Linked DNA regions of Homo sapiens. The protein of the gene in region 1 interacts with the protein of each later gene in a pairwise test. Each region holds a gene or a part of one and is shown in the gene's direction. Other genes may lie near its edges. The genes, in order: LUZP4, SRRM4 and SRPK2.

Region 1 (3,751 bases):
GAGAAAAGCTTTCAGTTTTTCACCATTAATCATCATTTTACCTTTGGTTGGGTTTTTGTAGATGCCCTTATGAGGTTGAGGAATTTACCTGCCTCCCACTTTACTTCTGAGGGGGAATGGCCCTGAAAAGTAACTAAGTATTTTTTGTTGTTGTTGTCTTTAAGATGTTTTTAGCAATCTATTTTAAGATCGGTATCAATTTCCTCTTCTAAGACATGGTCCCTGTTGATCCCATACTGCTACTTCCCCCTACCCCAACTTCATCACAAGTTCTGAAATATTTTGTGGCATTAAAATGACTTTAAAAATAATATTTGGTCACTGGCCAGGGCTGGGACTAGGGTGAGGTAAATGAGGCACTTGCTTCCAGTATAAAGTTCAAGGAGTCACAAAAAAAAAATTTGTTAATAGGGATAATTAATATTTTAATGAAATATTTAAAAAATCAAATGGACACACTACAGCCATCTGTCTGGCCACCTGTTTTTGTAAATAAAGTTTTCTTGACCTAAGAACTAGAGTGAAACAAGTGAAGGAGGGCTGTGCAAGTACAGGGTCTGATCTGATCCTATTTTTTTTTTTCTTTTTTGAAATGGGATCTCACTCTGTCACCCAGGCTGGAGTGCAGTGGCATTATCACAGCTCACTGCAGCCTCGACTTCCTGGGCTCAGGCAATCCTCCCACCTCAGCCTCCCAAGTAGCTGGGATACAGGCGTGTGCCACCACGCCCAGCTAATTTTTTTGTATTTTTGTAGAGACGGGTTCTCACTATATTGCCTAGACTGGTCTCGACTTCTGGGCTCAAGCGATCCATCCACCTTGACCTCCCAAAGTGCTAGGATTACAGGTGTGAGCCACCACATCCGGCCTTTGATACTATCCTTTTTTTAAAAAAAAAGCTTGATATTTTGTTCATCACGGATTGGTTTTGCATTGATTTTTATTTTTGAAAATACTGTGAGGCGGGCGTGGTGGCTCACACCTATAATCCCAGCTCTTTGGGAGGCTGAGGCAGGTAGATGACCTGAGGTCAGGAGTTCGAGACCAGCCTGGCCAACATGGTGAAATCCTGTCTCTCCTAAAAATACAAAAATTAGCCGGGCGTGGAGGCAGGCGCCTGTAGTCCCAGCTACTTGGGAGGCTGGGACAGGAGATTTGCTTGAACCCGGGAGGCCGAGGTTGCAGTGAGCCGAGATTGTGCCACTGCACTCCAGCCTGGGTGATGGAACTAGACTCCGTCTCAAAAAAAAAAAATAAAAAAAGATTGAAAAAAAGAAAATATTGTGTTGAGATATTTTAATCTTGATTACTGAGTTTTGGGGGACCTCCTTGAATTTTGTGCCTGAATTCCTCACTTACCTCACTCTAGGCCCTGCCTTGTCACTGGGACCTTGAAGGGAGAAAAACCTAGAACTGAAGGGAATTTATAGCACTGAGGTAAAACTTCATGCTTCCTGCACTTTTCTTTGTGTTGATTTCACTGATGTTTTTGCAACTGCTAACAGAAAAGACAAAACAAAACTGATAAATAGCTAAAGCAATGGGTTTATCTCAAAATTCAGAGAAATAAGGGCCATAGTTGCAGAGTGGCTTGGTCCCAAAAATGTAGTAGTTGTGTGACCTTGTGCAAGTTGCTCCATCTCTTGGGGCCTGAGTTTCCTGATCTGAATAAAATCTACATCATAGAGTTGTTGAAGATTAAATGAGAGAATACAGGTAATGTTCACAAAGTATGCTGCCTGACGTGGAAAAAGCTGAGTAAATATTTGCTATATGTGCCCCGGAAAGTGGGCCTAAACGCTCACGTTTGGGTAGCCAGCAATTTGGCAAGCTGGAGAAGTTACCTCTCCTCTTAGGATTTTGTTATCAAACTTCATAGATACAGTAGACATGAAAGAGATTAAAAACCATCTAGGTGAAAGATGGGGTTTAAACAGCTCACGTCAGTCTCTGGGAGACTGAGAGAGATGGTGGTGTCGTGTAACTTGAATAATAGTGAAGTAAACGGACTTAGGAGGCACTTATATTTTAGTAGATGATTACAGCTGGAAGGATACTGGAGAGTCTGCTTTGGGAAAGATTGCTTCAGTTATTTGAAAGGCTGAGGAAAGATGTTGAGTTGAATTTGGTAGGTTAGTTGGAGATTAAGTATGACTGTAAGATCTCATAGTCACCGAGTTGTAAAAAATCTTGAGGTCACTGTTTTATCCTTTTAAACGTTGGTTCTCTATATCCATATTTTAAACATTGGTTCTCTATATCCATATTTATACCTTTTTAGACAGATGAGAATCCCAGTTTTGATCATGTCAGGAGGAACAGCAAAACTTTCGACTAGTTATCACAGGCCCTTGCGGTTTATTTTATTTTTACTTTTATTTAATTTTTTGAGACAGGGTCTCTGTCGCTGAGGCTGGAGTGCAGTGGCACAATCACAGCTCACTGCAGCCTGGACCTCCCAGGCTCAAGCGATCCTCCCACCTTTGCCCCCAGAGTAGCTGGGACCCTAGGTGTGCACCACCACACCTGGCTCATTTTTGTATTTTCTTTGGTAGAGACGGAGTTTCGCCATGTTGCCCAGGCTGGTCTCGAACTCGTGGGCTCGAGCGATCTTCTCGCCTTGGCCTCCCAAAGTGCTGGGATTACAGCCGTGAGCCACCGTGCCAGGCTGAGGCCCTTGCAGTTTGAAGGCAAGAAAAATACACAATAAATAGCAAATACATGTTGCTTTCTATGATGTAATGAGAACGCCATACTTTTTCCTGATAAATTTCCCCATGTTTTTCTCAGTGAAAATAATACTTTTTAACAATGCATATCTTTGTTTTTAGATAACTAAACACATGCTTTAGAAAAGCAGTAGTATGTTGGATGCAAGGTTATTACTTCCATTGTAATACACGCTAAAGTAGGAAAAGGCTCTACAGATTTATTTTTGTTTTTGCCCTCAGTAAACATACCCAAAAAGTATTAGAGTCCTTTTTTTTTTTAAAACAAATAAAAGGCAAAAATAAGACCAAAATTCGAACTGGTAACAGCAAGAACTTAATAGGAACTCCACTCCCCTGTTAATTACTTTTACCTAAAAGAGACTGATGCAAAAGTGTTGTAGTTAGAAAGAAAAGAACTCTTTCTGCCTGCTAGATATGTTGGACCACGAATCCACAAATATGGATTATCCACTCTGTATTCTGTGCTAGGCACTTAGTACACTAGTAAATAAACAGTGGTCTCTTCTCAAGTACCTCCTAATCTAGCTGGAGAGACAGCTAAGTAAATATGTGCAATTATACATTGTTTTAAGTATTCTGGAAGTATGTATAGTCAGAATTTTTCAGAAGTTGAGAGGAACCTAAGTCACTTACATTTTTTGAGGTTTCCAGTGTTTTAAATATTTAAAAAATGGCAAAACAAAAATTGTGGTGTATTTTACATGTTTATAAATATAAAATAGTGGTTTCAACCCACTGTAAAATAAAATGCAATATAAGTATACTTTTCACAAGAAAATTAATTATGCAATTTAAATAAAAATGTAATTATTCATATGGCACCTCAAGCAGTGTGATCAGTTTTAAACTGTGTGAGGAATACTGTCTTTCTTCAGTCCTGACAGTTTATTTCTGAGAGTAAGTATATCAAGAATTCAAATTTAAGGCTCTTTGGTGAGGCCTGGATCAAATGTCTCTCCTTGAGAGATTGGCTAAGTGTTCTCTAGGTGGATTCAGTGGAGAATATCATTACAGAGAG
Region 2 (3,751 bases), on another chromosome or scaffold:
CCCTCCACGCAAACCAGCTCAGCCAGGTCTCGGGGCCAGGAGAAGGGGAGCCCCAGTGGGGGCTTGAGCAAGAGCCGGGAGCTCAACAGTGGCAACACCTCTGATTCAGGGAACTCCTTCACCACCTCCTCACCCCAGAACAAGGGGGCCATGTTGGAGAATCTCTCCCCCACCAGCAGGGGCAGAGAGTCAAGGTCAGTGCACCACACAGGGTCGGGGGTAGACGGTCTCCCACCTTAGCTCCACCTTCTCATGCTCTCATCCCAGCCTCCCCCACTCCACCCCCAAGATTATTTTATTTGTAAGAGAGATGAAACTCAACTCAGACTGGCTTGTTTTAAAACACTAGTGGCACTAGCTTCAGGTACAGCTGGATTCAGGGGTTCAAAAATATGTTGCTGGAAATCCGTCTTTCTCATTACATCTCTTATTCTGCTTCCTCATCCTACTGGCCTTATTCTCAAGCAGATCCTCCCAAAGCATTGTCAAATATGCCAAGCAGCTAACATTCTATTGGTTTAGCCAGCCAACAGGAAAACAATGCTTCTTTCTCAAAGATTTCAGCCAAACACCAAGGCAGGTGCTTATTGGTTCTGTTTGGCCCAGCTTAGGTCATCTGCCCATCACTGTCCCAGGGGATGCTATGCTGTTGGCCAGAATGTGTCAGATGCCATCACTAGGGCTAATGAGTCGAACCTTCCCACACTCCTCTACAGGAAAAGCCAGGTTATTGGTATCAGGAGAGATGGAGGCTAGGCAGGCAAAAAAACAGATGACAATTTTACCAGTAATCTTAGAAGGAAGTCGAACATTGACCAGGCGTGGTGGCTCACACCTGTAATCCCAGCACTTTGGGAGGCCGAGGCGGGTGGATCACCTGAGGTCAGGAGTTCGAGACCGGCGTGACCAACATGGAGAAACCCTGTCTCTACTAGAAATACAAAATTAGCCGGGTGTGGTGGTACATGCCTGTAATCCCAGCTACTCGGGAGGCTGAGGCAGGAAAATTGCTTGAACCCTGGAGGCGGAGGTGGCAGTGAGCTGAGATTGTACCATTGCACTCCAGCCTGGGCAACAAGAGTGAAACTCCATCTCAAAAGAAAAAAAAAATGAAAGAAAGTCTAACATTAAATTAATTGTAAGTCATTTAAGAACATATCACAGGCCAGGTGCGGTGGCTCACGCCTGTAATCCCAGCACTTTGGGAGGCCGAGGCGGGTGGATCACGAGGTCAGGAGATCGAGACCATCCTGGCTAACACAGTGAAACCCCGTCTCTACTAAAAATACAAAAATTTAGCCAGGCATAGTGGCGGGCGCCTGTAGTCCCAGCTACTTGGGAGGCTGAGGCAGGAGAATGGCATAAACCTGGGAGGTGGAGCTTGCAGTGAGCCGAGATTGCGCCAGTGCACTCCAGCCTGGGTGACAGAGCCAGACTCCATCTCAAAAAAAAAAAAGAACATATCACAGTATTTACCCAAATGAATTGAAAACTTATCTCTACATAAAAACCTGCACTTGGATGTTACAACAGCTTTATTTGTAATTGCTAAAACTTGGAAGCAACCAGAATATCCTTCAGTACGTGAATGAATACATAAATTATGATACGTCCAGACAATGGAATGCTATTCAGTGCTCGGAAGGTATGAGGTACCACGCTATGAAAAGACATGGAGGAAATGTAAATGCATATTACTAAGTGAAAGAAGCCAATGTGAAAAGGTCACACACTGCATGGCTCCAACTGTATGACATTCTGGAAAAGGCAAAACTATGGAGAAAGTACAAAGATAAGTGGTTGCCAGAGGGTGAGGGGACAGAGGGATGAATAGGCAGAGCACAGAGGATTTTTAGGGCAATGGAACTACTCTGTGTGACACTACAATGGTGGATAACTGTCATTATACATTTGTCCAAATCCATAGAATGTATAACACCAAGAGGGTACTCTGATGTAAACTATAGACTCTGGGTGATAATGATGTGTCAATGGAGGTTCATCGATTGTAGCAAATGGACCACGTTGGTGGAGGATGCTGATAGTGGGGAATAAGGCTGTGCGTGTGTAGCAGCAAGAAGTATATGGGAGCTCCCTGTGCTTTCCATTCAATCATGCTATGAAACTAAAACTGCTCTAAAAAATAAAGTTTATTAATTATAGATACAGATATACCATAGTATAATTTATCAACATATCAGAGAACATTGAGATTTCTCCATTTTTTTACCCATCTTAACACACTCACTAGATGCAGTTTTCCTGCAGAAAACTCTTCCACACAGATGCATATGAGCCAGTTGTAATTCTACTTCGTCATCCGCTTAACTCTCTCACTCAAGAAATCACAACAAAATGCTAATCACTGAGGTTACTGTCATCATAATAGCTACTAAAATTTACTGATCACTTAGTCTGTACCATTCATTCTGTTGTTTATTCCTCAACTTGTTTATCAGGCAAGTCCTCTCTGCCAGACACTCAGCCTGGTGCTGGGGATTTAAAAATGGAACAGTCCTTTTTCTCAGGAGCTTATAATTAATGAGGCAGATGCACAGTTGCGGGATGGGTGGAAAAGCTTTGCTGGTGCCCTCTGTCATGCTAACAGTGAGGTTTTTCTACTTCTGAGGGTGGGAGTTTGCCTTTGTTCCATATAGCCAAAATTTTCAAAAGATGACTAACGCCTTAGCACTGAAGCAGCTAACAGCTTCTTCAAAGACAGAGCACTCTTTGTCCCTAACACATACCCCATTTCAGTCCTGGACAAACAGCTTGACATCCACATGCAGAACTGCCTTCCCATTTGCCTGCCCCAGGTCATCCCTGGCCTCAGCTCACACCCAAGCTTGACTGAGAACCTGAGCTGGGCCAGAGCCAATGTCAGTGTCTCCAAGAACAGGCAGTGAAGTTCCCAGAAGGGAGGAGGAGGACACATGTTTACTGATATACAGCAGTGCTATTATGCAGGAAAAATTGAAATAGCAATAACAACAACAATAATAACGGCAGTTCATATTCGTTGAGCCCAAATCACATGCTAGGTACACTGCCAAATGCTTTCCAGAAATAATCTTCCCGAGCTCCTCAAAACCTTTATAGGACAGTACTATTTGTAACCCTTTTTTACCTGATGGGGAAACTGAGGCTCAGAGTGGTTGAGAAACTCAGTTAATAAGTGGCAGCACCAGAATTCAAATACAAATATGTCCCCCAAACAGGAACTAAAGCCTGAGAGACATCTAGCAGTTACCTGTTTAATTTGATCTCCATGGACAGCCAAATTAAGTAATTTAGACCCAGCCTTTCACTTTGAAATATAAATGATGGTTGAGTCCATGACTGTTTATGTCATGCCACTTATGAGCAGAGAGGGCTCAATAAATATGGGCTGAGTGGAAGAGACATCAGCTCTAAATCAAAGGAACCATAGACACTGAAGGTAGGGAGCTGGTGAGGTGGGAGGGGTGGGGACTCTGGAGCTGCACAGATCAAGGTTTGGGGCTCTGGGTGGTTTTGAGGAAATAACAAACCCTTCTGAGACTTCTCTGTAAATCTGGGGGTAATAATAGCATTGGCAGCTGGGCGCAGTGGCTCATGCCTGTAATCCCAGCACTTTGGGAGGCCAAGGCAGGTGGATCACGAGGTCAAGAGATCAAAGCCATCCTGGCCAACATGGTGAAACCCCATTTCTACTAAAAATGCAAAAACTAGCTGAGTGTGGTGGTGCGCACCTGCAGTCCCAGCCACTCGG
Region 3 (3,751 bases), on another chromosome or scaffold:
ATTTTTCTGGGCCTCACCAGATTATTTTTGTTTGTCACTTGCCCCTTGGTTAACTCTGCTTGATACAGGCATGATCTGAACTTGTTTGAGAAGATCTGGCCCCAGAATCTCTGGGAAGCTGGCCCTATACCTGCCTTTGAGATTCCCTGGAGTCATCCTGGAATTTAGAATGACTGCTCATGTACATGACAAGTTCATGACTGACCTCAGAGGTTGCCTTTATGGCCCAGGCCATCTCAGGAGACCTCTGTCTGGGACCTTCCTTGTCTAAAACAAAACCAGAATAGTTTAGTCCCTGCCTTTAATCTGTGTTTGTTAATCAACAGTCATCTACCCCTTGAGATCTGTGTGTGCTCAGCCCAAGCAGTGGGAACTGTAGGGGATGATGTGGGTGTGAGGTGTCGGTGCCAGGGACCCTGATGTCTTGTGGCGTCCAAGGAACTGTGTGTCACTGAGAGTGATCGGCCCCCACAGCAGTGTTCTTTCTACCTTCATGTTCCTTGTAATAATGCATCAGCAAGCTCGATCTGGGCCGTGAAGGGATGGATTGACACCATGAAGAGCCGCCACAAAGCTGCAGACAGGGGGACAGCAAGGCTGGCTTGTTCTAGGGCTGACCTGGACCCGAAGAAACTGGGGATAAAAAGAGAAAGGTCAAGGCAGTGCCCTTGGCGTCCTGTGGGCAGCCCAGTTTGCTCTTTTCTGGAGTATTTTCCAGAGGTGGAGAACAAGCAATTTTAGTTCTGTCAAGTTTAATTTACAGTATTCCAGGCCTAAGTGATCATTCCACTACTCTTGAGGAAAGGAGACTGACCCTGGCAAACACTGTGCTCACACATGCAAACCACCTATCCCGATCACTAACTGTCCTGCTGTTTGCTCATGCCAGCAAAAACCCGGGCAGCTGACTTGTTGGTGAATCCCCTGGATCCGCGGAATGCAGATAAAATTAGAGTAAAAATTGCTGACCTGGGAAATGCTTGTTGGGTGGTAAGTAGAGTTTTCTTTCTAAAACCTTTGGTCTTGATTCTGTGTGCGAAGACACTTTTTGAATGTCTGTGTTGCTCCGTGGTAATGCAGCCTGTTCCCTTCCAGCATAAACACTTCACGGAAGACATCCAGACGCGTCAGTACCGCTCCATAGAGGTTTTAATAGGAGCGGGGTACAGCACCCCTGCGGACATCTGGAGCACGGCGTGTATGGTAAGGACGGCTGTGCCCTTTGCTGCCATGGGAATTGGCTCGTTCCTTTCACACTCTGGATGGGGCTGAGTCTCTCTGAGGCATGCGACCTCAGTTTTTCTGACTGTAAGGGTCATCCACCGTGGGCTGGGTGAGGGGAAGGTTGCTGCCGCAGGCATCTTAAGAAGTGGAAGGATCCTCCTCAGGCGGGCCCTGGGTGTTTGGTGTGGTTGTGGGCTTGTGAGAGAGACATGGTCTCTTCTTAAGGCCCTGCACAGCCCACAGCCCCATGAATCAGACTCAGTTGTTGTGACACAGTGACTTCACTTGTGGTCCCTGAAAATGTGCAGGGTATAGGGAGCTTTTCCCTTCACTCACACTGTGGAGGAAGATGAGGTAGCATCTCCAGGGGAAGACTGCCTAAGGCGGGCAGGTGGGAGCCCCTCCAGGTAAGCCTCTGCCTGGTCAACCAGACATGCAGGGTTCCTCACCTTTCCAGACTGGAAGGGATTTCCCCAGATGCCAATGCATAATCTCTCTTCCCTTATAAAGCAAGAGCTAGCAGATATTCTGGCTTATTCTAGGATGTCTAGCCTCTTCTGAAACAGTGGCAGCAACGCCCACTCCCTCTGACAGAGTCTGTTCCCAGAGTGGTTGAGATGACGGCTTCCACAGGGCGGCAGAAGCCTCTTCTTCTATCTGTCAGGCCTGTTTTGCTGCTGGTTTTGTGCTGCACAGTTGCATTGTCTGTAAACTCCCCTGGCCCTGCCTGGCATCGTTTGGTCATTGACCCTGAACCTGTGAGTTGGTGAACACAAAGGGCCCTGCATTTGCGAGCCAGTTCCTGGTTCTCTTCCTCTGCCCTGTTTCCTGGCCCATTCAGCAGCTTTTTCTCAGTGGTATTTACTTAGGCGTTCCGTGTTGGGAAAGGTGGGTTGCTTGCTGTTGGGTTTCATGCTTTTCCTATTCCATACTGCTTTTTATCCATATTCTTCCAATATTTAAAAGAAAAGATTGTGTGCAAGGCTTAGCATTTTTCTTCTCACTGAAAAAAGGAATGCAGAATAAATATATTAATTTTCTGTTATTCAGAGGTTAATTTAACAATTTTCTTGAATTTACTGTGTTTTACCTCCTCTAATGCTCAAGTAAAAGCATTGTTGAGCAGATAGTGCCAGCTGATAGGAGAAAAAGAGGGTGCTTTCTGTCTTTCAGCTTTGACTCAGCATGATCTGAGTCAGCACATGGCCAGATAGGTCCTGAAACACCAGGCCTTTCTATTCCCTCGTTGCTCTTAAGGATAATACCAGACAATAACGTTTAAATTATTAAAGGTATTAAAGTTCTTCCATATCAAAAACCAAGTCCCTGCCTTAGCTAGGTATAGAAAAGAACGGTTAAAAGAACCGGTGGCCAATGATGGTCACTTTGAATTTAGAGAGTGCTGTGTGGAGAGGCATTTGACCCTCTCTGTGTGACCCCAGCAGGCAGACTGAGACGTGGGAGTTAGTGTAACGGGAGCTGCGGAGACACTGAGTGGGAGTCGGGGAGCAGGGGCCATTTCAGGATGTGGGGAGGTTAGACCACAATGGCCACTAGCAGCAGGGCTGCCCCGAATTAGGCGCTAAGTACTCTTTGAACTCTGAAATGCTGTGCTTCTAATTTGGGGTATTAAGTTTGGTGATATAACCAGAAAAATAGGACGCAGTCACGGATGTAGTGGGTTAATGGAGCTTTCAGCACAATTTTATACCAGGTTATCTGACCTGCCTTCCATTAGATGAACGTTTGTCCCTCCATACAATTTCCCTGTCCTGCTTACTTCTTGAAATGCTATTGCTGTGAACAGTGGCATAAATATCAATAACAGATTCCCAAGGAAAAGCCTTTCTGTCTTCTCACCTGCCCCCTTCCCAAGAATTAAGCATAAGCTCCCTCAGTGCTGTCAGGACGGCTTATGAGGTTTGCTTTTTCAGTTGGTTGTCATAAGGGAGGTTTTTTTTTTTTTGGAAAGGGGCAGGCCCTCATTCACTGCTTGCCCCACCCCCCAAAAGTCATGGCTTTAGAGGTTTCTTTTGTTCCTCCTAGAGAACCTAGGAGCAATGAGGCAGTTTTTCTTACCTCATCGTTCTGTTGTAGTGTAAAAATAGGACATTTAATATATTAAATTTGACCTCATAATACCAAGCTGTCATAAGGCCACAGATGGTTCTTGGTGGTAAAGCCTATATATAGTCTTTGAGGGTTTTGTTTGTTTGTTTGGAGACAAGGTCTTGCTCTGTTCCCCAAGCTGAAGTGCAGTGGCAGGACTATAGTTCACTGCAGACTCCACTTCCCAAGCTCAAGTGATCCTCCCACCTCAGCCTCTGGTGTAGCTGGGACTACAGGCACATGCCACCACGCCTGGCTAATTTTTGTATTTTTTGTAGAGATGGAGTTTGTCACGTTGTCTAGGCTGGTCTTGATCTCCTGAGCTCAAGTGATCCACCCGCCCTGGTCTCCCATAGTGCTGGGATTACAGGGATGTGACACTGTGCCCGGCTGTCTTTGAGATTTATAAATAGCATCA

What was found.
Region 2: the proteins of LUZP4 (region 1) and SRRM4 interact in binary tests that used the Homo sapiens proteins (3 or more experiments, as listed by UniProt).
Region 3: the proteins of LUZP4 (region 1) and SRPK2 interact in binary tests that used the Homo sapiens proteins (3 or more experiments, as listed by UniProt).

Annotation. Positions count from the first base shown.
Region 1 is NC_000023.11:115,292,708-115,296,458, forward strand, and holds part of LUZP4 (leucine zipper protein 4), read left to right. Parts: intron 1-3,751. UniProt on the Homo sapiens protein: Export adapter involved in mRNA nuclear export in cancer cells. Binds and enhances the RNA-binding activity of the nuclear RNA export factor NXF1. Can restore mRNA export function in cells compromised by loss of mRNA export adapters.
Region 2 is NC_000012.12:119,145,492-119,149,242, forward strand, and holds part of SRRM4 (serine/arginine repetitive matrix protein 4), read left to right. Parts: coding exon 1-194; intron 195-3,751. UniProt on the Homo sapiens protein: Splicing factor specifically required for neural cell differentiation.
Region 3 is NC_000007.14:105,130,243-105,133,993, reverse strand, and holds part of SRPK2 (SRSF protein kinase 2), read left to right. Parts: exon of another isoform or gene 1-889; coding exon 890-990; exon of another isoform or gene 991-1,095; coding exon 1,096-1,203; exon of another isoform or gene 1,204-2,227; intron 2,228-3,751. UniProt on the Homo sapiens protein: Serine/arginine-rich protein-specific kinase which specifically phosphorylates its substrates at serine residues located in regions rich in arginine/serine dipeptides, known as RS domains and is involved in the phosphorylation of SR splicing factors and the regulation of splicing.